3 separate regions of the Homo sapiens genome follow, and regions 1 and 2 are each linked to region 3. Evidence: fine-mapped expression QTL. A gene starts in region 3. Each other region holds a variant in brackets. All regions are shown on one strand. Distances are from middle to middle. Region 1 overlaps MCUR1 (mitochondrial calcium uniporter regulator 1). Region 2 has its middle 37 kb from the start of MCUR1. Region 3 holds the start of MCUR1 (mitochondrial calcium uniporter regulator 1).

Region 1 (10,513 bases), 27 kb before region 3:
TTGAACAGGCTGGTGTCGAACTCCTGACCTCAGGTGATCCACCCCTTGCCTTCCCAAAGTGCTGGGATTACAGGCGTAAGCCACCGTGCTGGCCGTGGATTTTTTGGTTAACTTTTTTTTTTTTCCCCTCAAGCATCTGAGTTAATCCAGAACTATAGTGGGGTCCTAGAAACTAGCCATAACATTAAAAAAAGTAATTTAAGATTCGGTAGAGAGCTGGTAAAATTATGTGAAACAGAATGAACCGAAATTACCACATGACACTGGAAATCAAAGGAGGGGACATTCTGCAGTATTTCTAGCTACTAAGCGATGGCAACTTAACACTCGCTGTATGGTTCTCTTCAGTTTGCAGCCTGTGTTTTATTTTTGTGAACCTGGTAACCAATGCTGATGAATGCCCATCCGAAAACCACTTCCAACTTCTTCTTCCTTGTCCACCTCCTACCAGAGGAGCGGAAAAAGCTAAAAATTCCATTTTGCAACCAGTCTGTGTGACCCAATCCTGTTCTAAGAGACACGCGGGGGTTCCTGTGGCAGGGAAGATTCTGGAAAAGATTTTTCTCCCTGATTTAAAGGAGAGAGACACATGAGAAGGGCCCTTTCGCACCTCCCTCCCTTCTTGATAGCACCCTCCTCTGGGTGCTATCGTGAGGATGTGATGCCTGGAGCGGTGGTAGCCCCCTTGAGATCAGATAAACCCCCAGCCTGAAGCTGAAAGCTGACACGTATAGGAAGGTAAGAAAGGAAAGACCAAAGGAGCTCCAATCCTTGTAGGCACTGTTGAGCTGCCAATCCAACCCTGAGGATCACCCATTTTAGATTTAAGAAACAGAAGTTCTTAGGTGTAAGCCACTGCTCATTTCACATTAACTGCAGTTGACAGCATCCACGGGATACAAATGTCAACAAAATACATGTAAGCGTTTTCATGAGGTCACTGTGTATCTTGATCCTCCAGGCCTCCATCTTTTCCTCACGAAGTCTGTTCAAATTTTCACAGAGATTCTTTTTTGTTTTGAGACAGAGTCTCACACTATTGCCTGGGCTGGAGTGCAACGGCATAATCTCTGCTCACTGCAACCTCTGCCTCCCGGGTTCAAGTGATTCTCCTGCCTCAGCCTCCCGAGTAGCTGGGATTACAGGCACCTGCCACCATGCCTGGCTTATTTTTTTGTATTTTTTAGTAGAGACGGGGTTTCACTATGTTGGCCAGGCTGGTCTTGAACTCCTGACCCTGTGATCCACCCACCTCAGCCTCCCAAAGAGTTGGGATTACAGGCATGAGCCACTGCGCCCGGCCTCACAGAGATTCTTGAGGTTAGAGAGAGACACTCTCTATTACAGCGCCCCTCAGAAGGCTGTGAGGTTCATGCACTCCATAAAATACTACACAAATGTAAAAGACAAATAGTAGCAAAATACTTCTGTGTTAGGAAAAGACACTGACTTTCATGCTGTAGGGGACAAGATGCTATGAAGCAACTGTGTCTTTTCCACTGGGGGAATGAACACTGTGAAGCCTGGAGGTGGCGGAGCAAGAAGTATTTTTAAAACCTTTGTTGTTAAGACGTTAACTGCAGAAATGCCACACTAAGCTGAAACCGGGAGTGCCTCTTCCTGGCTTTAACATTAAGCTGACCTGAACCTTCAGAATCATGGACAACCAATCAGAGTTTACCGAAACATAGAGTATGTGCAAAACAAAAAACAAACAAACAAACAAACAAAAAAATTAGTTTAAACTGAAAGGGCAAGTTGGGACCTTATAAAATGCCTACATGTTTCAACTACTCATTGCGGAAGGTGTTGCCTAAAAATACTTATCTGCAGATTTGTGATATATAAAAGAAGACCAAAATCTCACTGATCTCTATTTAAGGATGCTGATGCTTACACCTTGGTGGCTGACAGTGGCCACCCTCTGCAGTGTCCCAAAGGCCACCCTCCTTGGGTCCTTGGCAAGAACCTCCTACAGAAACTGCCGAGTTAAGGTGGAGACAAAATGGGCAGCGGAACAACTGGAGGAGATCTGCTGTGGGATGCCAGAGAGAAAGCTGTTTCTAGAAAATGCCTTTAAGACAATCTTCTTAGTTTTAAAGAAATCAGCCAGGCGCGGTGGCTCACGCCTGTAATCCTAGCACTTTGGGAGGCCGAGGTGGGTAGATCACCTGAGGTCAGGAGTTAGAGACCAGCCTGGCCAACATGGTGAAACCCCGTCTTTACTAAAAATACAAAATAATTAGCTGGGCGTGGTGGCGGGCACTTGTAATCCCAGTTACTCAGGAGGCTGAGGCAGGAGAATCGCTTGAATCCAGGAGGCAGAGGTTGTAGTGAGCCGAGATGGCGCCATTGTACGCCAGCCTGGGCGACAGAGCGAGACTCCGTCTCAAAAAAAAAAAAAAAAGAAAAAGAAATCATGGCTATGAGTGGTGGCTCACGCCTCTAATCTCAGCACTTTGGGAGGCTGAGGTGGGCGGATTACTTGAGGTCAGGAGTTCATGACCAGCCTGGCCAACATGGTGAAACTCCGTCTCTACAAAAAATACAAAAATTAGCCGGACGTGGTGGCAGGCGCCTGTAATCCCAGCTACTTGGGAGACTGAGGCAGAATTGCCTGAACCCGAGAGGCAGAGGTTGCAGTGAGCCGAGATCACAACACTGCACTCCAGCCTGGGCGACAAGAGCAAAACTCCATCTCAAAAAAAAAAAAAAAAAAAGGAAAAGAAAAAGAAATAAAAAACTCAAGGCAAAGAAAAGGTTTTTAGTTTGTTCCCCTACCACTGATGTGAAATGGGGACCTAGGGGAGATGTGGAAGGATGACTAAAATCTAACACATTGCCCACCATTTTTGAACTTGAAGGTTGAGTTTGCAAATCATTTACCGCCTTTGCCTACCTCATCTGCTAGTTGCCTTCTGGAAATTTTGCAGTTCCCCCTCAAGTCTAGTTATTTGATTCTAACTTTGGTACAAGATTTCTGGTTGGAGAAAATGAGATGTAACTGAAATTTCCAGGCTACCATTCATTCATTCACTTTAGATACAGGGTCTTGCTTTGTGGTCCAGGTTAGTCTCGAACTCCTGGCCTCAAGTGATCCTCCTGCCTTGGCCTCCCAAAGAGCTGGGATTACAGATGTGAGCCACCGTGCCCAGACCTGTATTTCATTTACCCCCTTTTCTGAGATGTTCCTTTCCTCTCCTCCTGAGCAGGTATTAATTACACTGAAGATCAACCCACACAGGCTGACTCAAGAAGAGCTCAATTTTTTGGAGGTGGGGAATTTGCTCAACAGGCCCTCAGGGAAGGTGAAGTGTGCATCCCTCTGAGGACCCTTCTGCTTCCTGTGACCCCAGCTGCTTGCTTTAGATATTTCCTTCCCAAGATTTTTCAGGGTGGAGCTCACTAATCATTAAGCTGTAAGGGGATGTACTGGGTGTTTCCTGCAGACACACAGGCTCTCTGTGCTTGAAGAAGTAGGTCTAGGAGGATTATGCCCTCCAGAGAAGAAGCAAAGGTAAGAGGTGCAGAGGGGAGTTCTCACAATGGCATTTTTTTGGTCCTTCCTGAACCTTGGTTACATAAGCCAAAAAAGGATATTCTTTTTTCTGCTCAAGCTAGCCTGATTTGGATTTCCATGAATCCTTATAGCTATTTTTATTTTATTTTGAGACAGGGTCTGGCTCTGTCACCCAGGCTGGAGTGCAGTGGCACAACCACAGCTCACTGCAGCCTCTACCTCCTGGGCTCAAGCCATCCTCCCATCTCAGCCTCCTGAGTAGCTAGGACTACAGGTGTGTGCCACCACATCCGGCTAATTTTTCTATTTTCTGTAGAGACAGGGTTTCACCATGTTAGCCAGGCTGGTCTCGAACTCCAGGACTCAAGTGACCCACCCGCCTTGGCCTCTCACAGTACTGGGATTACAGACAAGACCAACCGTGCCCGGCCAGATATTTTTTAAAATTGTGTATTTCTCAGCCAGGTGCAGTGGCTCATGCCTGTAGTACCAGCACTTGGGAGGCTGAGGCAGGAGGATGGCTTAAGCCTAGAAGTTTGAGACCAGCCTGGGCAACATAGTGAGACACCATCTCTGCAAAGAATAGAAAAAAAATTAGCTGGGTGTGGTGGCGCATGCCCGTGGTCCCAGCTACTTGGGTCCCAGGCTGAGGTGGGAGGATCGCTTGAGCCTGGGAGGTCGAGGCTGCCATGAGCAGTGACTGCGCCAATGCACTCCATCCAGCCTAGGCAATAGTAGTATCTTGTCTCAAAAGAAAAAAAAAAAAGAAAATTGTCTATTTCTAAAAACCTGTATTTAAACCTCATCATTTCCCCTCAAACAAGTAGCTTGTATAAAATTACTCATAACATGAACATGCTAAAGAAATTCTTTTGAATGATGAAAAGTTACTTTGTACATTATATTAAAATTTATTTTCTATGTATACCCAAATTTTCAAGTATTAGATTTACTTAGAAATTCACCAGTGTTATCATTATACAATTGGCTGGAATTAACAGTTGCAATACAGTTATTCTAGCTTTTCATATTCAATTTGAATGATCAGAAAAGTATATTAGTCACACAGAATTAAATATTTTAGATAGTAAGAATCTTACACTTTATTAGATAATAAAACATAATTGATATTTGCTTAAGTAACAAAAAAGTTAAGAAATTGGGTTATAAGCAAAGGAACATAAGTGTAAAATGTGTAGAAAGATAAATATTTTCCAAATAAAATTCTAATAAAAGGCTAAACATTCTCAAATATTTTACATACATGAAGAATAAATTATTTCTGGTTAACATGTTTTTGCCTTAGTGCCAAAAAAGCCAGAACAAATTTGATAAGCTCACATTAAAATCAAAGTTTTCTAGATATGAATTCTATATACCATCTCTATATTTGTTTAGAATTTTGCAAAATTCTTAGAAGATTGCATGTTAGGGTGGGGGAAGATAAATGCTTGCCAATACTGACATGGTTAATTAACAGACAGGCTTGAAAGGAGAAGGCTAGAAGAGGGAAGATTATGTCACTAAGCATAGCTACAAAAGGAAAAGCCACATGGAAGCAGAGACAAAGGCAATCCCGACACACAGAGGCATGTTTGTTGCGGCTCAGGGTTTCTGTTTTTCAAGTGTTCAGAGACGAATTCCAGCAAGACTTCTGGTTTGAGTCAAGCCTTTCAACCGAGGT[G/A]CTTGGCATACTTAACGGAAAAAGCGAGTACATTCAGATTTAGTTTTGCTAGATATTAAACTAGAAAACTGGATGACAGTAAAACCAATACAGAAACAAAAAGTCATGTTTCCAGTAAAGAACCGTACACACAAGCAGGTTTTGCTTATTAATGTAGCAGGAGAGCATGGAAATCGGAGTTCAGACTCTTTAGAAAAGACAAAAGGCAGGGGAGGGGAGAGAAGAAAAGGAGGAATGCAGAGAAGCCCTCCAAGAATGATGAGTGATTCGTGCAGGAGAGGGAAATACAGACGTTCCGTCCATGTGAGATTCTGCTTCAGGTATTGGACATCGTTCCCTCCACCTGCACCTAGAGGATATGTGTTCAGGATCTCGCTATGGTTAGTTACCCATGTGCTAGACATAGGTTGCTAGCTAGAAGTTTTGCCAGCCATCTTCCCCCCTCCTAGTGCTAATGCCTAATTTCCTAAAGTAATCTGAATCCTTATAAGCCAGGGTAGCTCAGGAGGTTCTATTTACTTATTTATTTATTTTGAGACAGAGTCTCACTGTGTCGCCCAGGCAGATCTCGTCTGGGCCCGAGTCTCGTTGCAGTGGTGTAATCTCTGCTCACTGCAACCTCTGCCTCCCAGGTTCATGCAATTTTCCTGTCTCAGCCTCCCGAGTAGCTAGGATTACAGGGGTGTGCCACCACGCCTGGCTAATTTTTCTATTTTTAGTAGCGAGAGCATTTCGTCATGTTGGCCAGTCTGGTCTCCAACTCCTGACCTCAGGTGATCTGCCTGCCTTGGCCTCCCAAAGTGCTGGGATTATAGGCATGAGCCACCGCACCCAGCATCAGTAAGTTTTAATATTACGTCTAGTCGGCTCACGGGTGCTTGAGCCAGAAGTGGGAAGGGTACACTTGTATTTTGGGCTCAAATGGTTTTCAAATAAAATACATCTGACCAAATAAAGTGAACACAGTCCTGAGCCCTCCTCTCTCCAGATATGCATGCAATCCACACCATCAAAAGAAGAGTTCACTGTTCCCAAGGCCAAGAAGAGGCTATGCTGTACTGCAAAGAACTCTATAGCAAAATCGAACACCCAAATTAAGTGCCAGAATGATGCAGCCCGCTCTCACCAGGAAGAACGACATGTGAGAAAACTTATAGCAGATGCAAAAATGTCAACCCACCATGTTATTTAAAAAAAAATTTTATCAGGATACAAGGACACTTCACTGTTTTTAACCCACACAAGGTTAGGTAATGTTTACCTTGAAACATAATCGCATATGGCCCTTTATGCCACTCACCTAGGCCTTTAATAATGAGGGCAATTGCTAAGTGTGCTGTCTCTTCTGGGGACTTCTCTCTGAAAGGGGGATGATATATTGATAAAATATTTTATTAATCAGTTAAGAATTTTTGATCTACTTGAAAAAGATTAAATTATAATATTTCACTTTGAAACTGCTATTGCTCATGCAAAAGTACTTGATTTTCATACTATATGGAGCTCACAATCTTTGGACTACACAAACATTCTCTAAAAGGGCAATGACTTATATTTTCCAAAGTTTAGACATGACATCCAAAGGACAAAAGGTAACTATTTTTTTTACCAATGTGGTTGGAACAGTGACAACGAGCAATGTATTCACCAAACTGATCAAAAAATCTGCCTGTGGTTCCTTCACTGTATGTGTGTGCAGAGAAAGGCAGAAAAGCTTCTATCCATGTCATTGTCTCTCTTGCCCATGTGCCAGTAATTTGAATAAGATGAGAATGGGCCAGGCGCAGCGGCTCACGCCTGTAATCCCACTACTTTGGGAGACCAAGGCGGGTGAATCACGAGGTCAGGAGTTAGAGACCAGCCTGGCCAACATGGTGAAACCTCATCTCTACTAAAAATACAAAAATTAGCTGGGCGTGGTGGTGGGCACCTGTAATCCCAGCTACTCAGGAGACTGAGGCAGGAGAATCGCTTGAACCCAGGAGGCAGAGGTTGCAGTGAGCAGAGATCACGACAATGCACTCCAGCCCTGCGACAGTGCGAGACTCCGTCTCAAAAAAAAAAAAAAGGTGAGAATGTGCTTTTCCAGAATAACCCCAGTTGTATCTAGAATTTGTTTTCAATATAAAGGCAGGTATGAGAATGTTTTGAACAACAGAATTAATCCATCTAGATTAGAATGCTGTGTGGCATGACCATTCTCGAATTTTGAAAGCCTGAGCTGGTTGTGGGCAAGGGGATATTCATTAATGACATAAATTTCATTTATGAAATATGTATCCATCATCTAGGTATCTTATACATGGAGAGCTGACTGCATCCCTTGTATAAAAAGTAAATGAAGACCGGAAGGAAGCAGACTTTGTCCTGCAAACTGAAGCAAAGTTCCATGCTAAGAATCAGCAGGTTTTCTAGGTAGGTAATGCCACCAGTGGAGGATTATTACAGTTCTCAAATCATGAGGGAAAGAGATGGAGAAGAGGGAGGGAGGAGGGAAAATCTTGCATTCTAAGAGGTAAGAGTCCCCATTACAATTGCAATGCTTCTTTAGACAGCTGATTTTTCTGGCTGGAAGGCACATTAAAAATAACCCTAACAATAACTTACCAAGACAATGGAAATCAAAAGAAAAGAAGGTAGACGTGCAGCTGTCTTATTAACATGACAACCAACTACAGCTGAAACAATACTATGGTACAGGGACTAGCTCATGTTAAAGACTGGTTATTTAGGTAAAGAGGATCTGGTGCTCTTGGTTTAGCTTCAGTGATTTTCCAGCACTTATTAAAGCCATTGTGCCCTGAACATGGAGACCCCCAAATCCTCTATGTGCCAAAGATTAAGTTGTAGAGAATTACATCAATGTTTGCTGTTGGTGTGCACCACAGATGAGACCAAGCTTCCTGGTCCGGCTAAGTGGAATCTTCCATGCACTGTGCACCACTCAGCTAGAAAGTCAACTAAGCAGAAAGGAGATAAGGAATGGCTATGGAATACCTGACTTCTTTATCTTGGTTATGTGTCCACAATTTTCATAAAAATAAATAATACACATTAAGTCAAAATCTGGGCTCAAATGTGTAACAAGAAAACAAAAGGACAACAATCTGGTATTCCGGTTTTTTTTTTTTTTTTGAGACGGAGTCTCGCTCTGTTGCCCAGGCTGGAGTGCAGTGACGTGATCTCGGCTCACTACAAGCTCCGCCTCCCAGGTTCACACCTTAGCCTCCCGAGTAGCTGGGACTACAGGCGCCCGCCACCACGCCCGCCTAATGTTTTAATTTTTTAGTAGAGACGGGGTTTCACCGTGTTGGCCAGGCTGGTCTCGAACTCCTGACCTCAGGTAATCCACCTGCCTCAGCCTCCCAAAGTGCTGGAATTACAGGTGTGAGCCACCGCACCCAGCCAACAATCTGGTATTCTTAAGGCAAAACAGTAGAAATCACTTTAAATAGACACTTTATTAGATCCACAGGCGATAAAATCCCAGAGCTACTGTTAGGCACGTAAATATAGACCCTGTAAGAAAAAAACAATTGAGAGTACTATTAGTTCTATTAAGAGTTACTTGAGGGAACATCTTTTTTTAAGAAAACCTAAAAAAGAAAACCTAGAAACTTAGATTGCTCACTGATGTCCCATATTCCGTGAAACGCCTGCCTACTGAAAAAACAAATCCCACACCCTTTATTTTATTTTCTTATTTTAGAGACATGGTCTCATCTGGTACCCAGGAGGAGTGCACCATGCAATGGTATGATTACAGCTCACTGTGCCTCAAACTCCCGGGCTCAAGTGACCCTCCTGCCTCAGCCTCCCAAGAAGCTGAAGCTACAGGCAGATGACACCATGCCCGGCTAAATCTTTTTGTAGAGACTAGGTCTCGCTGTGTTGCCTAGGCTAAGAAAACTTTTCAATAAAAGTTTCGAATAGCAAAAATTCTGTGGTCACAAGGTCTATGTATATGCACTATAGAGACAGGAAGACACAATTTAATATAAAGAACAACATTTCACTGTTAAATAATGCTGTAACCTTAAAATATTTAATTAATCCAAGACGTTAAATCTGACTTGAAATAATGGTTAATTTGGGTGGGGGGTGGTACATGAATGTTCATTCTCTCTTTTGGATCAAAAATCGCGAAAGTAAAATAACTCCTTAAAAGGAGTTTAAGCAATTGAAGCAGAAAGATTACAACTGAAACACCTTCCATTTTATCCATAAAATATTTCCTGTCTTGAATCTCATTAAAATCCCTAATAACTATAGTTCAATTATAGTATCTTATCAAATTTCCAATTCTATCAATTATAACGTACACAATTACTTTATTTACTACTAAGAAAGAAAAAGTGCCAATTAAACTATGATACTTCATCTACTGGAAATTGTAAGATGCTTTCCAATTTCAGAGATGTTAAAATATTTCAGAAAGTGTTGGAATCAATGAAATGCAGTATCTGTCAACGACTTATTTTATAAATTTATTTTCTTTTCAGGTTGATTTAAATAGATACAAAATAGCTTACCTGCTAAATATTTAATATTATCAAGCTTGTGTGACTCAAGCATGGTTTTGAGGCCAGCAACCTCAGTTTCGATCTTCCTGTCTGTCTGGGTAAGGGCCCGATCTTGCTGGGCATGCTTTTAAAATGAAGAGAGTCACAGCGTTAGACCACAGCACGTCCCCTCTGCTCACCATCCTATAGCTCCTTCCCAACGGGGTGCAGTCACAGGGAAACCTGGGTAAGACTATGGAGGCCTGGGCTTTAGTCTCAGTTCTAAAACCCTAATTCTACGCTGCATTGGTCAGGACCCTTAACCTCTCTAGGCCTTAGTTTTCTTCTATTTGAAAAAATGAAAACAGAACAAAACGAAACAACCAAGCCAGTGGCCCTGCCTTTACCTGGACTGTTTAGAGAATCAAATGCGATAATCTATGTGAAAAAGCATTTGTAAGCTCTAGGTTGCTATACAAATGATGTGGTATTATGAGGCCAGTCTGTTCTCAAAGGCAACGGCTACGTCTCATCCTTCTAAATCCTCCTTAGTCAAAGATAGACAGTAAACTCAAAAATGTTTTCAAGAAATGGAGTCTTAGATAATGTGAAAGCGGCAGTGCTTGTCTTGAGCTATTTCTAGTCATATTTTTAAAAAACTTTCTTCTTTCATGTTCAAATATCAAGTGTTTCATTACTATGAGGCTTGGCTACCCACGGCCAATTTGTGTCCTTCCCCAAATACAATACAGTTAAACTGGACACATAATCAACCCTCAAAAAGGCAGTGGGTTTGGCCGACGCTAT
Region 2 (7,351 bases), 38 kb before region 3:
CATTCATAATTTCAATGAGATCAAGAACCTACCAGTTCCAGACATACTAGCGCTTTGGGAGACCAAGGCAGGCGGATTTCTTGAGTCCAGGAGTTCATAGACCAGCCTGGGGAACATGGCAACACTATCTACAAAAAAATACGAAAACTAGCTAGACATGGTAGTGCGTGCTTGTAGTCTCAGCTATATGAAGGGCTGAGGTAGGAGAATGGCTTGAGCATGAGGAGGCAGAGGTTGCAGTGAACTGAGATTGCACCACTGCACTCTGGGTGACAAGTGAGACCCTGTCTCAAAAACAAGGGTACTGAATCAAACAAGTATTTAAGGCCTAAACTCAGGGTGACTCTGAGACCCAAACAGTGGGCTCCATGTCAACATCAACCCCTTTATACGAAGATTCCCCAATAAAAATATAAATATTCACAATCACCCTGGGGTCTGCATGGAAGATTGATGTATAACACTTGAGAGCTTACGGATATGTCCATGGGTTACCTACGTTGTTTTAATACCTACTACAGTCTGTACCCTAGATACTCGAAGAAGAATGTTCTTTTACTAGGATACTGCATCTTAGTAAATTCACCTTAGTACCCTGGGGTGGTTGCCAGGGAGGGTACTAACAGAAGTTTGCTTGTTTGGTGGTTGGGCAAGTAATATTACTAGTAATTACTAGCAAAGGATTCCAGTTATTGCATGCAGACTACACATTTTATATGTAGGTATGGGGTTTTACTATTTATTTATTTATTTAGAGATGGAGTCTCACTCTGTTGCCCAGGCTGGAGTGCAGCGGAATGATCTCGTCTCAGGGCAACCTCCGCCTCCCAGGTTCAGGTTGTTCTCCTGCCTCAGTCTCCCGAGTAGCTGAGATTACAGGCACCTGCCACCATGCCCGACTAATTTTTTTGTATTTTTAGTAGAGACGGGGTTTAACCATCTTGGCCAGGTTGGTCTTGAACTCTTGACCTGTGATCCACCTGCCTCGGCCTCTCAAAGTGCTGGAATTACAGGCGTGAGCCACTGCACCTGGCCAGGGTTTTATTGTTTAGAAAATATTTTCATGTATTTGACCTCATTTGATCCTTACCACATGTGGTCAGCCAGGTAGGGTATCTATTCCCTGGAATCAGAATGCTTCGGTTTGACTCTGACGTCACCATTTATTAGCTATGTGTTCTTGGGCAAGTTACTTCAACTTTTTTATTACTATTTTTTTTTTTTTTTTTTTTTTTTTTTTGAGTCAGAGTCTCACTCTGTCACCCAGGCTGGAGTGCAGTGGCACAATTTCGGCTCACTGCAACCTCCACCTCCTGGATTCAGGTGATTCTCCTGCCTCAGCCTCCTGAGTAACTGGGATTATAAGTGCACGCCACTGTGCCTGGCTAATTTTAATATTTTTAGTAGAGACAGGATTTTGCCATGTTAGCCAGACTGGTCTTGAATTCCTGACTTCAGATGATCCACCTGCCTCGGCCTCCCAAAGTGCTGGGATTACAGGCATGAGCTACCACGCCAGGCCCACTTTTTTCTTTCTTTCTTTCTTTCTTTTTTTTTTTTAAATAAATAGAGATGGAGTTTCCCTATGTTGCCCAGGCTGGTCTCAAACTTCTGGGCTCAAGGGATCCTCCCAACTTCACCTCCCAAGATGTTGGGATTATAGGTGTGAGCCACCTCATCCAGTCTACTGAAACTTTCTATACCTCAGTATCTTCATCTGCAAAATAGAGATCACTGTAGTACTTACTTCATAGGGATGTGATGAAGATTAAATGAGATTGTGATTACTTTAAAACTATGCCTGGGCCGGGCGCGGTGGCTCACGCCTGTAATTCCAGCACTTTGGGAGGCTGAGGCGGGTGGATCACAAGGTCAGGAGTTCGAGACTAGGCTGGCCAACATGGTGAAACCGTGTCTGTACTAAAAATACAAAAAAAAAAAAAAAAAAAAAATTAGCCAGGCATCGTGGGAGGCACTTGTAATTCCAGCTCTTGGGAGGCTGGGGTAGGAGAATTGCTCGAACCCGGGAGGCGGACATTGCAGTGAGCTGAGATCAGCCACTGCATTCCAGTCTGGGTGACAGAGCAAGACTCTGTCTCGGAAAAACAAACAAACAAACAAAAAAACTATGTCTGGAGGCCAGGTGTAGTGGCTCATGCTTGTAATCCCAGCACTTTGAGAGGCCAAGGCAGGCAGATAGCTTGAGCTAAGGAGTTTGAGACCAGCCTGCGCAACATGGCGAAACTCCTTTTCCACCAAAAAATACAAAAAATTTGCCGGGTGTGGTGGTACATGCCTATAGTCCCAGCTACTTGGGAGGCTGAGGTGGGAGGATTGCTTGAGCCTGGGAGGTGGAGGCTGCAGTGACCTGAGATCTCTCCACTCTAGCCTGGGTGACAGAGCGAGACCCCAACCCCCACCAAAACAAAAAACAAACAAAAAACTACAGCTGGAATACAGTAAATAAATGCTCTATAAGCATTCCTATTATAATTATTGTTGTTGTTGTTTTCGAAACATAAGGACTAAGGTGCTCTGGACTGAATT[T/A]GTGTTCCCCCAAATTCCTGTGTTGAAACCCTGCTCCCTAGTGTGATGGTATGAGGAGGTGAGGAGGTCATAGGCATGGAGCCCTCATGATAGGATTAGTGCCCTTATAAGAAGAGACTCTAGGCCGGGCGCGGTGGCTCACGCCTGTAATCCCAGCACTTTGGGAGGCCGAGGCAGGCAGATCACAAGGTCAGGAGATCGAGACCATCCTGGCTAACACGGTGAAACCCCATCTCTACTAAAAATACAAAAAATTAGCCGGGCGTGATGGCGGGCGCCTGTAGTCCCAGCTACTCGGGAGGCTGAGGCAGGAGAATGGCGTGAACCCGGGAGGCGGAGCTTGCAGTGAGCCGAGATCGCGCCCCAGCACTCCAGCCTGGGCGACAGAGCAAGACTCCGTCTCAAAAAAAAAAAAAAGAAGAGACTCTAGAGAGCTTGTTTCCTCCGTCTCTCCACTCTGTGTGAGGACACAGCAAGAAAACAGCCATTTGTGAACCAGGAAGTGGGCTCTCACCAGACACCAGATCTGCCAGCCAGTACCATGATTTCAGACCTCCCAGCCTCCAGAATTGTGAGAGAGAAACGTTTGTTGTTGAAGCCGCCCAGTCTACGGTATTCTGTAATAGCAGTCCGGACTGACTAAGACTTAGGCTTGGCAAGGTCAAATGGTTTTCCCAAGAGTGCAACAAGTGGCAAGGTGGGGAGCTACGGCCAGGGCTCCTGACTCATAGTATTCTTACTGGTCAAATATCTGCCTGTAAAAACTGGTTTTTAGCAACCGTAACAAGATATCGTGCTGCTAAAACGAAATAATCATGGTTTTGTTAAGTCTCAGGAAAAAGGTAATAGGTACGGTTTTCTCCATCTTAAATGTTTTCCCATGGAGTTCTAAGCTTTGGAGATTTGCTACTGCTTGCCTACTAGCACTTGCTGGTGCTTACAACCAAGCAAAGGCATTCACATACATTTTTTCTTTCTTTCTTTTTTTTTTTTTTTTGAGATGGAGTTTCGCTCTTGTTGCCCAGGCTGGAATGCAATGGCGCAACCTTGGCTCACTGCAACCTCCACCTCCCAGGTTCAAGCAATTCTCCTGCCTTAGCCTCCCAAGTAACTGGGATTACAGGCATCTGCCACCATGCCCAGCTAATTTTTGTATTTTTAGTAGAGACGGGGTTTCACCATGTTGGCCAGGCTGGTCTCGAAGTCCTGACCTCAGGTGATCTGCCTGTCTCAGCCTCCCAAAGTGCTGGGATTACAGGCGTGAGTCACCGCGCCCAGCCCACATACATTTCTTTCTTTCTTTCTGTTTTTTTGTTTGTTTTGAGACAGGGTCCTGTTCTGTCATCCAGGCTGGAGTGCAGTGGCATGATCAGAGCTCACTGTAGCCTTGACCTCCTGGACTTGAGTGATCCTCCTGCCTGAGCCTCCTGCCTGCGTCATCACACCCAGCTAATTTTTTTTTTTTTTTTTTGAGAAGGAGTCTCGCTCCGTCCTCCAGGCTGGAGTGTAGTGGCGTGATCTCAGGTCACTGCAAGCTCCGTGTCCCGGGTTCACGCCATTCTCCTGCCTCAGCCTCCCACGTAGCTGGGACTACAGGCGCCTGCCACCATGCCTGGCTAATTTTTTGTATTTAATTTTTGTATTTTTTAGAGGTGGGGTTTCACCATGTTGTCCAGGCTCATTCACATAAATATTAATAGGGAAAGCTCAAAAAATTAATTCATGACTGCCTATAACCCCTGCCTCCCTGCCTTAAAAACCCTTACCTATATGCCTCAGATCTTAAGCATAAGCTGCCTGATTCTCCTTGCTTGGCACCCTACAAATAAACACCCTGCTTTCTACCACTACAAGCCTCGATACAGATATTTGACCTTACTACACAGGGCAAGTAGACCCCAGTTCGGCTCGATAACACTCCCTTCCCTTTAAAAGGGGCAGGAGTAGTTCAACAGCTTTTTTGTTTTCATAAGTATCCAACCTTGTGGTTAATTGCATACTGGTATCATAGCTGTATTTTCTGTTCCTAGGTTGGATGAAGGAATCGGATACATAAGTAATTTGCAGCATTCCACAAATTCAGTAGAGGACACAATGACTTCTAGGTTTACCACCCTATGAATAAGGCCGAGGGCCCTTACCAACCACGCATAAGCCACAGTCATCCCTTACCAACCACGAATTCTACCAAATATAAATTGATTTTAGTACTCTTTTCCCATAATCATGCAAATTTCAGACCAAGTATATATGATCTGAGTTATTCTTGTAGGTGATAGTTAGAAAAGATGGAACCAGGAAGCTGGAAAGAGGAGAGGGGTGGTGTACAGGAGTACATACTTTTGCCATGCACCCACCCTAAGGCAACAGAAGCAAAAGAAACAGGTGTTGGAATTCTACTCCTGCCCCTTTTAAAGGGAGGGGAGTGTTATTGAGCCAAACTAGGGTCTACTTGCCCAGTGTAGTAAGGTCAAATATCTATATTGAGGCTTGTAGTGGGAGAAAGGGGGGCGTTTATTTTATTTATTTATTTATGACAGATTTTTGCTCTGTCTCCCAGACTGGAGTGCAATGGCGTGATCTCTGCTCACTGCAACCTCTGCCTCCTAGGTTCAAGCGATTCTCCTTCCTCAGCCACCCAAGTAGCTGGGATTCCAGGCGCGTGCCACCACGCCAGGCTAATTTTTTGTATTTCTAGTAGAGATGGGGTTTCACCATGTTGGCCAGGCTGGTCTCAAACTCCTGACCTCAGGTGATCTGGGGGTGTTTATTTGTAGGGTGTCAAGCAAGGAGAATCAGGCAGCTCATGCTTAAGACCCGAGGCTTACAGGTAAGGGTTTTTAAAGGCGGGAAGGCAGAGGTTATAGGCAGTCATAAATTAATATATGGAGGCTACATGCTGGCTTCTCATATAAAGGAGGACATCTCGATGTGAGGACCCATAGGTCATAGGTGGATTTAAAGATTTATTGATTTGTAATTGGTTAAAAAAGAGCTTTGTTTAAAGATTTGAGGTCAGTAGAAAAGAATGGTAGCTCTGGCTCGAGGGTGTGACTTTTTGTAGCCTGCTCAGGAAGAAGAAATTTAGAACAAAGAACAGTGGTTACAGTTTAGCCATCAGTTCTCCCTTATTTGAGGTTTAAGTGCCAGTGGATCCATTCGGTGGGGATCTGGGTTTCTGAAAAACAACCGAGGGATATATGCTCACATGTTATCTTTAGTTTTTGTTGTTGTTTTGTTTTTGTTTTTGTTTTGAGACAGTCTCGCTCTGTCCCCCAGGCTGGAGTGCAATGGTGCGATCTCAGCTAACTGCAACCTCCGTCTTCCAGGTTCAAGCGATTCTCCTGCCTCAGCTTCCCGAGTAGCTGGGTTTACAGGTGCCTGCCACCATGCTTAGCTAATTTTTGTATTTTTAGTAGAGACAGGGTTTCACCATATTGATCAGGCTGGTCTCGAACTCCTGACCTCAGGTGATCCACCCACCTCAGCCTCCCAAAGTGGTGGGATTACAGGCATGCACCACCACACCTGGCCATTATCATTAGTTTTTATAGGGAACACAAATATCTCATGACTTTAACTTTTTTGCTATTGTTTCTTTAATTAATTTTTTGCTTATTGTTCATTTTTAGGGCTAGTTAGGTGCCTGGAATTTATTATTTATTTATTTATTTTGAGACGGAGTCTCGCCCTGTCACCCAGGCTGGAGTGCAGTGGCTCGATCTTGGCTCACTGCAACCTCCGCCTCCCAGGTTCAAGCAATTCTCCTGCCTCAGCCTCCCAAGTAGCTGGGACTACAGGCGCATGCCACCATGCCCGGATAATTTTTGTACTTTTAGTAGAGACGGGGTTTCACCATCTTGGTGAGGCTGGTCTCGAACTCCTGACCTCCGGTGATCCACTCACCTCAGCCTCCCAAAGTGCTGAGATTACAGGCATGAGCCAGCATGCCCGGCCTGGAATTTTTTTTCAGTAACTCAATACTTTAAAATTTTTTATTTTATGTGGGGTTTGGTAGGCCTCTAAAGGGTTCCTGCTCCTTCTTAGGTGTTGTACCTAGGTTATGCTACTCTTATTTAATTAAAACAATATGGCAAAGCCAACACTATACAAGGGGACTTCAAAAAGTTCATGCAAAATGCATATTATGAAAAAAAACTATGTATGGATTTTAAGATGTTTTTGCACCAACATAAACGCACACTAACTTGTAACATGTCTAAACAGAACCTAGTTTGAGGCACGAAGAAGGATACTACATCAGTCTGAAAACAGTCTGGGCATGCCGGGCGTGGTGGCTCATGCCTGTAATCCTAGCACTTCGGGAGGCTGAGGCGGGTGGATCACAAGGTCAGGAGTTTGAGACCAGCCTGGCCAACATGGTGAAACTCTGTCTCTACTAAAAATACAAAAATTAGCTGGGCGTGGTGGCACGTGCCTGTAATCCCAGCTACTTGGGAGGCTGAGGCAGAAGAACTGCTTGAACCTGGGAGGCAGAGGTTGCAGTGAGCCAAGATCGTACCACTGCACTCCAGCCTGGGCAACAGAGTGACACTCTGCCTCAAAAAGAAAAAAAAAATTAAAAAATTAGCCAGGCATGGTGGTGCGTGCCTGTAGTCCCGGCTACTCAGGAGGCTGATGTGGGAGGATCGCTTGAGCTCAGAAGGTCGAGAATGCAGTGAGCCAAAATCTCACCACTGCACTCCAGCCTGGGTGACAGAGAATAGACCGTGTCTCAAAAAAACCAAAAAACAAAAAACAGAGGCCAGGCACAGTAGCTCATTACTGTAAATCCTAGCACTTT
Region 3 (10,513 bases):
TTGGCTTTTGGATTTTATGAACTGCTAAAATCTTTTTTTTTTTAATTGGGTCAGGTGAACTAGTTCATGGTTGTAATTCCAATACTTTGAGAGGCCAAGGTGGGAAGATCACTTGAGGCCAGGTATTCGAGACCAACCTGGGCAACACTGCAAGACCTCCTCTCAAAAAAAAAAAAAAAAATTAGCCGAGTGTGGTGGTGTGTGCCTGTATTCCCAGCTACTCCCAGCTACTTGGGAGGCTGAGGCAGGAGGATGGCTTGAGCCCAGGAGTTTGAGGCTGCAGTGAGCTATGATTGCACCACTGCACTCCAGCCTGGGTGACAAAGCAAGATCCTGTATCGAAAAAAAAAATATTTAAAGGCCGGGCGTGGTGGCTCACGCCTGTAATCCCAGCACTTTGGGAGGCCGAGGCAGATGGATCATGAGGTCAGGCATTCACGATCAGCCTGGCCAAGATGGTGAAACCCCGTATCTACTAAAAATACAAAAATTAGCCATGCGTGGTGGCAGGCACCTGTAATCCCAGCTACTCGGGAGGCTGAGGCAAGAGAATTGCTTGAACCTGGGAGGCGGAGGTTGCAGTGAGCCAAGATCGCACCACTGCACTACAGCCTAGGTGACACAGCGAGACTTCATCTCAAAAAAAAAAATTAATTAAAAATAAATAAACAATATTTGAGTTGCCAATTTTTAATTGTGTCATGAAAGAACTTTTAAATATAGCTGCTTACTACTACTATTAAATATTGTACTAAAAAAGACATTATGACACCAAAAGAAAAAAAAAGATGAACAATCAAAAGAACTTCCATTTAATCAACTTAGTATATGAAAATCTTGCTACATATTTGTCATTACTTTTCTAATTTTGCCGTTAACTGGCACCAGTCTGAGGTCTGGTGTTGTAGAAGTCTGGTAGGAGCAAGAAGGGTCACCTGCCAACTCAAAGGTCAAAGGTTTCCCCAGCAGGCCTCTGAATGACCAGAAAGATGCTCCAGCTGATCAGCTTCCACTCTCAGTCCTTCACCCCGATTACCCTATAATGAAATCGAGAGTAAACAAAACAAAAAAATGGACTGAACCCTACAAATGTGACGCTTTGCTGCAGCCTATGGGAGTTGTTCCCAGCCTACTCACAGCTTGGGAAGGGGAGGGTAGCTGTGGTCACTGTAAGCATCCAGATGAGTGCAAGAGATGCAATAATCCATATCTGTATCAAGAACCATTTGCAGACTGACACAATATAAAGTGCAATGACTTATGTGTGTTTGTGTTTGTTGGTAAAACTGGGCCCTGAGATTCAAAGAACCACTGTGCTATGACAGGAGGTCCTTGACCTGGCATACAAAGCCCTTGCTATTTATGACCACGCTTATCCTTTCAGCTTTCTTTCTAGCAACCTAAGCTATTCTATTTCCTGCAATTGCATGCTTAAGCATGGCTTGCTCCCCTTTCCCAATCGTTAAACTTTAAGCATTCTTTTTACCCTTCTTCATTAAATTGCCAATTTACTGAGTATACATTATGTTCCAGGTGTGGCATTTTCTTTTTTACACTTTATGGTTCTCTCTGCTTCCTCCACCCAGCTAAGGGAGCAACCTTTATTGAGCCCATACCTGTGTTCTCAGCTCAGTACAGATAGCTCATCGTAGCACTTACTACATTATTTCCTCATCTGTATCATCTATTTGTCCAAGCTGCCCAGGAGCAGCCAGTCTTGCTCATTTTTTATCTTTAGCATCTGGCAAGGGGCCTGGCATACAGCAGGCTAGGAATAATTTTTTTTTTTTGGTAATTGAACTGTAATGACTTCTACAATCTGGATTATGAAACTGTCTAGAGGGAAAATTTGAGATGAATTCCTTTCTCCTCAGTTCTTCCCTTTTCACATAAACGAGCTCACTTAAATCTGGTACCTCTTTTTTAGTTTATTTCCAGTCCTGAGACTAAAACTGGCCTCCATGAGAAGAGACCCAGGATGTCTGCCCAACACAGAAGAGACCTAGCCTGAGAAACAGTGGGAGTGAAGGAATGAAAGCACTTCTCCAGGGGACCTCCTAAGGACCACCTCACCTGCCCCAGAACTCTACTGGACTGCCCCATGTGTCAGGGAGCTCGAAAACACCTGAGTCTGGAATGACTTGTGAAGAGTGACAGGGTTACTCTAGACCTAAATTCCTTGTTTCTAGTAAGAAAATAATCATTCATGTATTTAAAACATAACCTCCTCACCCCCACCCCCACATAAACAAAACAATCACATGACTACTTTGTAACGCCAATTTGGATACTACAGTTTTTTTGTTATTGTTGTTCTTTTTCAAAAAGATTGGAACCAGAAACAGCAAGCTTATTTCCAAGAAATCCTGCCTCTGAAAGGTCGACAGAAGGGCTGGCCACTTTCCATTGGTCACTCCAACCCCTGATGAGGGAAGGAAATGCCCTCTTGGCCTTCTGTCAAAGGGCAGTACCTGAGGACACCGCCAACTCCCAGACTCCTCACTGATCATAAGGAAGCGAGCCAACTGAGCTGTGTCAACGTGTAACATGCAATTCCCCTTTCTGGGGACCTTCAGCATATCAAGAGAATATTAAAAACCCACAATTACAATAGAGGCCCAAAGGTAGCCTTGGACAGGATGAGGAAACCAAATACAAACTTCCTACTCATGACATCCTTAAGTAGCTCAACCGAGAACCTCAGGCACCAAGCAAACAAATGGTTGGGAAACGCTCATTGGCTGGTTAATGGGCATACATGCTTCCTTAACTGTGTCTCTGCTCTCTTCTGTTTTTATGCATCCATACTCATTTTTTATGATGACTGAAGAATGAGATAGCTGACACTAAAACAACAGTACCACCTTACCGATTGGTCAGCAAATCCGTGAGAAAGAACACTCTCTTTTTGCCCTATACTCTTGCATTGAGAGAAAAACAAATTGGAAATTACTAGCTTGTCAGAAAAAGCGCAACAAAAGGCAAAATACAGAATAAAGACCAAACTCATCTCCGACTCCTAATTACTGAAGGACAGTGACACCGAGTTCACTACTCATTCCCCACTCTCTGTATATAAAGTTTCCTTCACTTTATTGCTCTACTAATCAGTTTTTACCCCAGCCAATGATATTCTTAAATTATAGATATGGTCAACATTTAGTGGGCCTATCTGTTGAAGAAAATATGAAAAATGTGTAGTTAGTGATGGCTACTAATGAATATGTATAGACTGCCCAAAGTGATAATTTTGCCAAGTCTGTTGATTATCAGAAATGATTTTTTTCTTTAATCAACAATATGCTATCTAATAAATTGATTCTATTTACTTTCCTCATCTCCAGGGCAGTGATCTCTCTCACCTCCTTTAAATAGTCATGAGCCCCACAACTACCTTTCAGCCCAGGACAGAGGGGCACACACGACAGTGGTCTATGAGACTATAATACATATTTTTACTCTACCTTTTCTACATTTAGATGCGCAAATACCATTGTGTTCAGATTGCCTCTAGTATTCAGTACGGTAACATGCTGTTCAGGTTTGTAGCCTAGGAGCACTAGCCTCTACCTGATAGTCTAGGTGTGTAGTAGGCTGTAGCATCCAGGTTTGTGTAAGCACACTCTACAATATTCACACAAGGAAGAAGTCGCCTAATGACTCATTTCTCAGTAGGCGACTGTCCTGAAGAGATGCATGACTCTAATTAAATGCTACCTTCTCAATGAAATCGATTCTGATCACCCTATTTAAATTCACAACTGGAGACCCATTCCACTTCCCAAGCCTTATCCTATTTTTCTATACCAGGCATCGAATTACGAATATATAAAAATTATTTGTATATATAAATTATATATACATCAATTATGCATACGTATATCCACACACACATATTTACTGCGTCTGCTCTGCTAGAATTAAGCTCCAGAGGGAAGATTTTGTGGACTGATATATCTCACACATCTAGAAAAGCGCCAGGGACAGGGCAGACGCTAGGACTCCACGAATTAATGATTCCATCAGAATTTGAAATCAAACTGTAAAGCAATCCCTTCATTTCCCAGAGCTTTGCTGCTCAAACATACACACCCCTTCCCCTTGAACGCCCAACAGGCTGGGCGCTGCCAAACAGAACTCCTGGAAGGCGGCGCCCAAAAGCAGACCCTAGGAGTGGGCGGGCACCAACTCCCCGCCCCAGCACGCACCTCCCTCCAACTTTAGCGCCCGGGATTCCCAGGAATTCGTCTCTTCTGGGCTAAGCCCCGCCACCGCGGCCGAGCAGGGCGGGCCCGGACCTTCGACCCACGCTCCGGGCAGATGCCGGTGGCCTTGGAGGACCCGCCCTCCGGCCTGCCGGGCCTTTCCTCGGGGAGGCTGTAGCTGAGATCCCCGCCCCGCCGTCCAACCCCGCGAGACGAGCCCCCTCTCCTCTCCCGCCCGGGCCTCACCTCTCCTGCAGGAAACGAGTGCAGGCGCCGGGCCGTGGTACTGGGGAAGGGCGCCGGCGGCAGCGGCGACGCCCGGTGAGCACCTCCACGCGCTGCTGCGCCCGGCCGGGGGTGCGGCATACCCGAGGCGCGAGCGCTCCCAGTCCCCGAGCTGCCGGCGCGGGGCTGCGGCGGCCAAGCGCGGGGAGGGCACTAGCAGGAGGAGGAGCAGCGGTGAGGCACGTGACACGCCGCCGCGGGCCGCCGGGGCGCGAGGGCGCAGCGCCCCCAGACCGTCGGAGAGCGCAGAGAGGCAGCGGCGTGCTGAGGTTTCGCTGCCGCCCGGTCTTCCGCTGAGGCCCACGGGCAAGAAGAGAAGCCGCTGGCGGCCGGGCAGGCGCTGGGTCCTCTGGCCGCCGACCGAGCCGCAGTCCATCCCCGAGCAGTTCACTGGCCCGGGCGCGCGCTCATGCCTCTCGCTTTTGGCGCCGGCCACGCGCGGTCCAGGCCCAGAGTCCGACAGCGGGAGCGAGCGTGGGCCACAGCGCAGGACCGCCCTTTCCTGCCGGGCGCGCGGGCGGGGCTCGGGACGCGCGCCGGGGGTGGGGTGGGGCGGGGCGGCAGGAGCCCGCCGTGGCGCTCCGAGATGCGGGGACCGTGCGAGCCCCCACCCCATTCGCTAGGCGACGGCGGCGACCGGGAGGAGCCTGCGGGCACTCCGGAACTGGAAGGAGCTTGTTGCTGTCACGATTTGCATTTTCACTGCACTGCTGTCCTTAAAAAGGAATTACCCCGGTGCCCTTCAGAGTCCTGTGAAAAGTCTCAGACCGACAGGCTGCCCTAGATTTCACTGATTATCCTAAGTCCCCAAACATGTGGTTCTGGGGAGCATTTTAAGGAATTATTAGCAGGGCCCAGGGAAAGGCCCTCACATAATACATTCAAAACTAAATTTTCAGAGTTTTTGTTTCCAGATTAGAGCACCAAAAACATGGGAAGGTAGCAATCTGGGAACTTAAAACGTGGGGCATGAATGTTAAAATGAGACCTGTCGGGTATATTTGAAACTGGTAATGTTTAGTTTCGTGGACTTTTTGAAGGCCTGTTACACCATTCACAGATAACTGGTCCCTTATGTGAATTTGGAAGATGTTAGTTGAATAAATAAATGAAATGCATAAGGCACCAAGCTAGGAGATTTTATTAAAAATAAAAAACCGCAAAACAAATTGTTCTTATCCTCCAGAAGCTGTTTTCCTATACAGCCATATGTGTACACATACGTGATGGAAGAATGTGTTATGAGCCATGAGAGATGTACAAAGTGCTGGGAAGAGAGGAGCGTGCATATGGATGTGCAAGATAAGTGTCTATCAAAATTTGAAGAACTGAAAAACAGGATTCAAGTCATAGGTTGGTGCAAAAGTAGTTGCGGCTTTTGCCATTGCAAGTAATGGCAAAAACCGCAATTACTTTTGCACCAACCTAAGACACTTTTGTAAAAGGAGTATACATTTATAAAATTGGTAGAAAAAGCAGTTTAGCAATGAGTATCAACAAAAATTTGTAAACTTTTCTCAAGTCACCTAACTAAAAATGGGGATAATGGGAATAATCCAAAATATTAAATATCTACTAGGTTTGACTATACAAACTTGTCATTTTTATGGGTCAAAATGCTTAATATTGGTAATTTCACATATGCACAAAAGATAGTCATTGTATCATAATTTGTGATTGTGAAAAAATGGGAAAATAGTGCACAACATTAGAGGAACGATTAAACTGTGGCACAAACTTTAATGTTAGTCCTTTGTAATTTTTAAAAATTGAGGTATAATTTGCATACAGTAAATTCCACAGACTTAGGTGACATTTAGCAGTTGATAAATGTCATTTAGCAACTTGATGACATTTAGCAGTTGTATATACCACCCAGTCAAGATCTAGAACATTTTCATTGCTCCAGAAAGTTATTTTGTGCCAGTTTTCCAGACAATCCACCACCACCCCAAGGCAACTATTTTCTCTTTTTTTTTTTGAGACGGAGTCTTGCTCTGTCACCCAGGCTGGAGTGCAGTGGTGCAGTCTCAGCTCACTGTGTCCTCTGCCTCCCGGGTTCAAGCAATTCTCCTGCCTCAGCCTCCTGAGTAGCTGGGATTACAGGTGTCTGCCACCACGCCTGGCTAATTTTTGTATTTTTAGTAGAGACGGGGTTTCACCATATTGGCCAAGCTGGTCTCGAACTCCTCACCTTGTGATCTGCCCGCCTCGGCCTCCCAACGTGCTAGGATTACAGGCGTGAGCCACCGCGCCCGGCCAACTATTTTCAAATTTCAATGACCATAGATTAGTTTTGTCTTTTTTTGAACTTCATGTAAATGGAGACCTACAATATGCATTGCCTTGTGTCTTTCTTCTGCTTTGCGTCTGACTTCAATATCAATGAGATTCATCCATGCTGTTGTATCAGTAATTAGTTGCTTTTAATTGTTGAATAGTATTCCATTGTATGACCATACCACAAGCGGTCATCCATTCTATTAATGGCCATTTGCTTTGCTTATAGTTTTTGGCTATTATGCATAGGGCGTTATGAACATTCTTGTATAAGACCTTGTGTGGACATAATTTTTATCCCTGTTGGGGAAAGTATCTGGGTCAAATTGCTGAATCATATGGTAGCTTAACTTTAGACACTGCTGAATTGTTTTTCCAAAGCGACTGCACCCTTTCACACTCTTAGCAATAGATGAGCGTTTCGGTTGTTCCACATCCTTGCCAAATTTTGATATTTTCAGTCCTCATAAAATGGTACCTTATTGTGATTTTTAACATAACATTTCCCTGATGCCTAATGATGTTGACTAACTTTTCATGTATTACTATTACCAGCCATATTGAATACAATAACATATGTAAAGCACTTAGCACAGTGCCTGGCCTATGATAGGAGTATAATGAATGTCAGTTCTAACTACAGGTTGGATAGCATCCACTTTTCCTTGGATGTGACACCTGTTGTTTTATTTTCCAAAGCATTCCCTTTCTTTTGGTCTCAGCACCCTAGTTTTCCATGGGCAGTGGCTCTTCTCTGCTCTCAGTCCATGCGGTTTGGAGAGACTGATCGCTCTGCAGACCACAGGCATGGGCATGTCACCCAATCAGAGTTAATGAGCAGCCGGGCGCGGTGGCTCACGCCTGTAATCCCAGCACTTTGGGAGGCCAAGGAGGGCGGATCACTTGAGGTCGGGAGTTGGAGACCAGTCTAGAGAAACCCCGTCTCTACTAAAAATACAAAATTAGCTGGGTGTGGTGGCACATGCCTGTAATCCCCGCTACTTGGGAGGCTGAGACAGGAGGACTGCTTGAACCCAGGAGGTGGAGGTTGCGGTGAGCTGAGATTGCACCATTGCACTCCAGCCTGGGCAACAAGAGTGAAATTCCATCTAAAAAAAAAAAGCTTCAATTCTAGGATTCTTTTTTTGTTTGTTTATTTGAGATGGAGTCTCACTCTGTTGCCCAGGCTGGAGTGTGGTGGCTCAATCTTGGCTCATTGCAACCTCCACCTCCTGGGTTCAAGCGATTCTCCTGTCTCAGCCTCCCACGTAACTGGGATTACAAGCAAGCACCACCATGCCCAGCTAATTTTTGTATTTTTTAGTAGAGACGGGGTTTCACCATGTTGGCCAGGCTAGTCTCAAACTCCTGACCTCAAGTGACCTGCCTGCCTCAGCCTCCCAAATTGCTGGGATTACACGTGTGAGCCACCACGCCTGGCCCAATTCTAGGGTTCTTAATAGGAACTATTGGGAAGAGGTCGTCTTATTTTATTGTGATGTCTAGGTATAGGATGATTTGAACCATGAGCTCCTGGGGCTACCATGTGGCCTAAGACTAAAGCCCTTATGAAGAAAAGAAGACTGAGAAATGAAGAGACGGGTCCTTTTGAGCGTCTGATTCTAGCTTAGGCTGAAATTGGCATTTTATTTATGTAATCCAATAAGTTGCTTTTACTTAAACCAGCTGGGATAGGGCTTCTGATTCCTATCCCGGATACATTAGTGTACATTAGGATAATCTAGACATGTTAGACTTCTGTCTATGTATAGAGAGACTAGATACAGGAATCTAATGGCCAATGAAGAAGAAGAAGTATCAACTAATTAATGGATCAGGCAGGAGCCAGACAACCCCCATGTGAACCATGACAAAGTTGGACTTTATGACAAAGTTGGATTGGTGAATATACTTGGATCTGGGGCCAAAGTGGGGCCATCTTACTCTCTCTCTGTATCTAGACTTAGGGACCTCCCATGAGTAAAGCTGGATTCACAGAGCAGACTCTGACTTAGCCACCATCTGTGAGAAGTTTAGGTGGCCTTATATATTCTAGGTGTCATCAGGAGAAAAGAGATGGAAGATGGCCAGAGCTATCCCTGAAAGATCTACTGGGTCTGTTTTAGCAGGTAGTAACAGAAAGGTCAAGGGCTCATTGTCCCCGGTGCAAGCAGGTCAAAGAGAGAACAAAGGAGTTGGAACATTCCTGGATGTGACCTTTAGCATACTGATACTCTTACTAGTAAACACTGATGGGGGAATGTCAACTTCCACTAATCAAACTACTATTCTCCGTAATTGAAGAGTGTTAAAGGGTGAAGAAAGGATTCTCCTTCTGGGTAAAATGGAATAAGCACACTCCACCCTGTCTTTCCACCTGAATGCAGGCATAAAAGCTGGACAGAATGCATAGAGCCACTATTTGAGGACTCTGAAAAGTAAATAATAGCAGGCACATCAGTGAAGAAGACAAAAATCAAAGTACCACTGAACTGATGTTTAGTTTAGTATTTTTTCCAATGTATGAGCTCCCCTAGCTTGAACTGTCAACCCATAGTTCTATTACTAGCAAAAATATCCTTCAGTAATGAAGTGATGAAATAAAGACATCCTCAGATGAAGGAAAACTAAGAGGAGTTGTTTTTAGTAAGCTTGCACTAAAAGAATTGCTAAAGGAAATTCACCATATAGTAGGGAAATGATACCAAAAGGAAACTTGGAGCATTAGGAATAAAGGAAGAGCAACAGAAATGGCAAATACCAAGATAAGTATAATATTCTTCTCCTCTTTAGTTCTTTAAAATATGTTAAATGATAGAAAGCAAAAATTCAAACAATGGTGAAGTTTTTAATGTTTATAGATGTGGTATATAATAACTACAAAATAAAAGGGCAAGGATAAAGAGACCTATATGGTAGTGAAGTTTTCATATTGCACTTACAGTGGTAAAATACTGATTCTAAGTAGAGTTAGAAAAAGTTAAATATGTCTACTGTAATCCCTAGAGCAACCCATAAAGATACTGTACAAAGAGATATAGGTTGGGCACAGAGGCTCATGCCTGTAATCCCAATACTTTGGGAGGCTGAGGTGGGAGGATGGCTTGAGGTCAGGAATTCAAGACTAGCCTAGGAAACATAGTGAGACCCCACCTCTACAAAAAAAAAAAAAAAAAAAAAAAAAAGAAAGCCAGACATGGTGGTGAATGCTTATAGTCCTAGCTACTCAGGGGGCTGAGGTGGGAGAATCACTTGAGCCCAAGAGTTTGAGGCTGCAGTGAGCTATGATCAAGTCAAAACACATAATAGATAAAATGTAATATTAAAAAATGTTCAAGTAACCCAAAAGGAGATAGGAAAGGAGAAATAGAAGAACAAAAAACAGAGATAAAAACTAAAAGCAAACAATAAAATATTAGGCATCAATCTAAACATATCAATAATTACATTAAGTGTAAATGGTCTAAATCAGTGGTTGAGGAATGTTTTTAAAAAGCCATATAGTAAATATTCGGCTTTGTGAACCATAAGCAATCTCTTTTACATATTGTTCTGTTCAAAAACAGGTGGTGGGTTGGATTTGGCCCATGGGCCATAGTTGGCCAACCTTTGGTCTCAACATGCCAATTAAAACAGAGAGAATGTCAGAATGGATTAAAAAAAGAAGAAAGCACAGCCTAGTTATATACTGCCTACAAGACACTCACATCAGTTATAATAATATACGTAGGTCAAAAGTCAAG

Evidence for each region.
Region 1: its variant is fine-mapped to the expression of MCUR1 in tibial nerve (GTEx, PIP 0.97).
Region 2: its variant is fine-mapped to the expression of MCUR1 in whole blood (INTERVAL, PIP 0.98).

Annotation. Positions count from the first base shown.
Region 1 is chr6:13,782,142-13,792,654 of GRCh38, forward strand. MCUR1 (mitochondrial calcium uniporter regulator 1) reads right to left here. Exons shown (of 9, transcript NM_001031713.4): 8 at 9,737-9,851; 9 at 4,416-8,723. The coding sequence ends at 8,668. Among named protein-coding and RNA genes, the nearest start is that of MCUR1, 27 kb to the right of the region's middle. RefSeq lists an enhancer at 5,511-6,343 and a silencer at 7,012-7,180. The variant G/A (reference allele first, on the strand shown) is at 5,205.
Region 2 is chr6:13,773,577-13,780,927 of GRCh38, forward strand. No RefSeq gene overlaps it. Among named protein-coding and RNA genes, the nearest start is that of MCUR1, 37 kb to the right of the region's middle. The variant T/A (reference allele first, on the strand shown) is at 2,548.
Region 3 is chr6:13,809,564-13,820,076 of GRCh38, forward strand. It overlaps MCUR1 (mitochondrial calcium uniporter regulator 1), which reads right to left and starts at 4,994. Exons shown (of 9, transcript NM_001031713.4): 1 at 4,452-4,994. The coding sequence starts at 4,866. LOC107986571 (a long non-coding RNA gene) reads left to right here and starts at 4,247. Exons shown (of 2, transcript XR_001743986.3): 1 at 4,247-4,526. RefSeq lists silencers at 4,182-4,851, 4,932-5,201 and an enhancer at 5,362-5,461.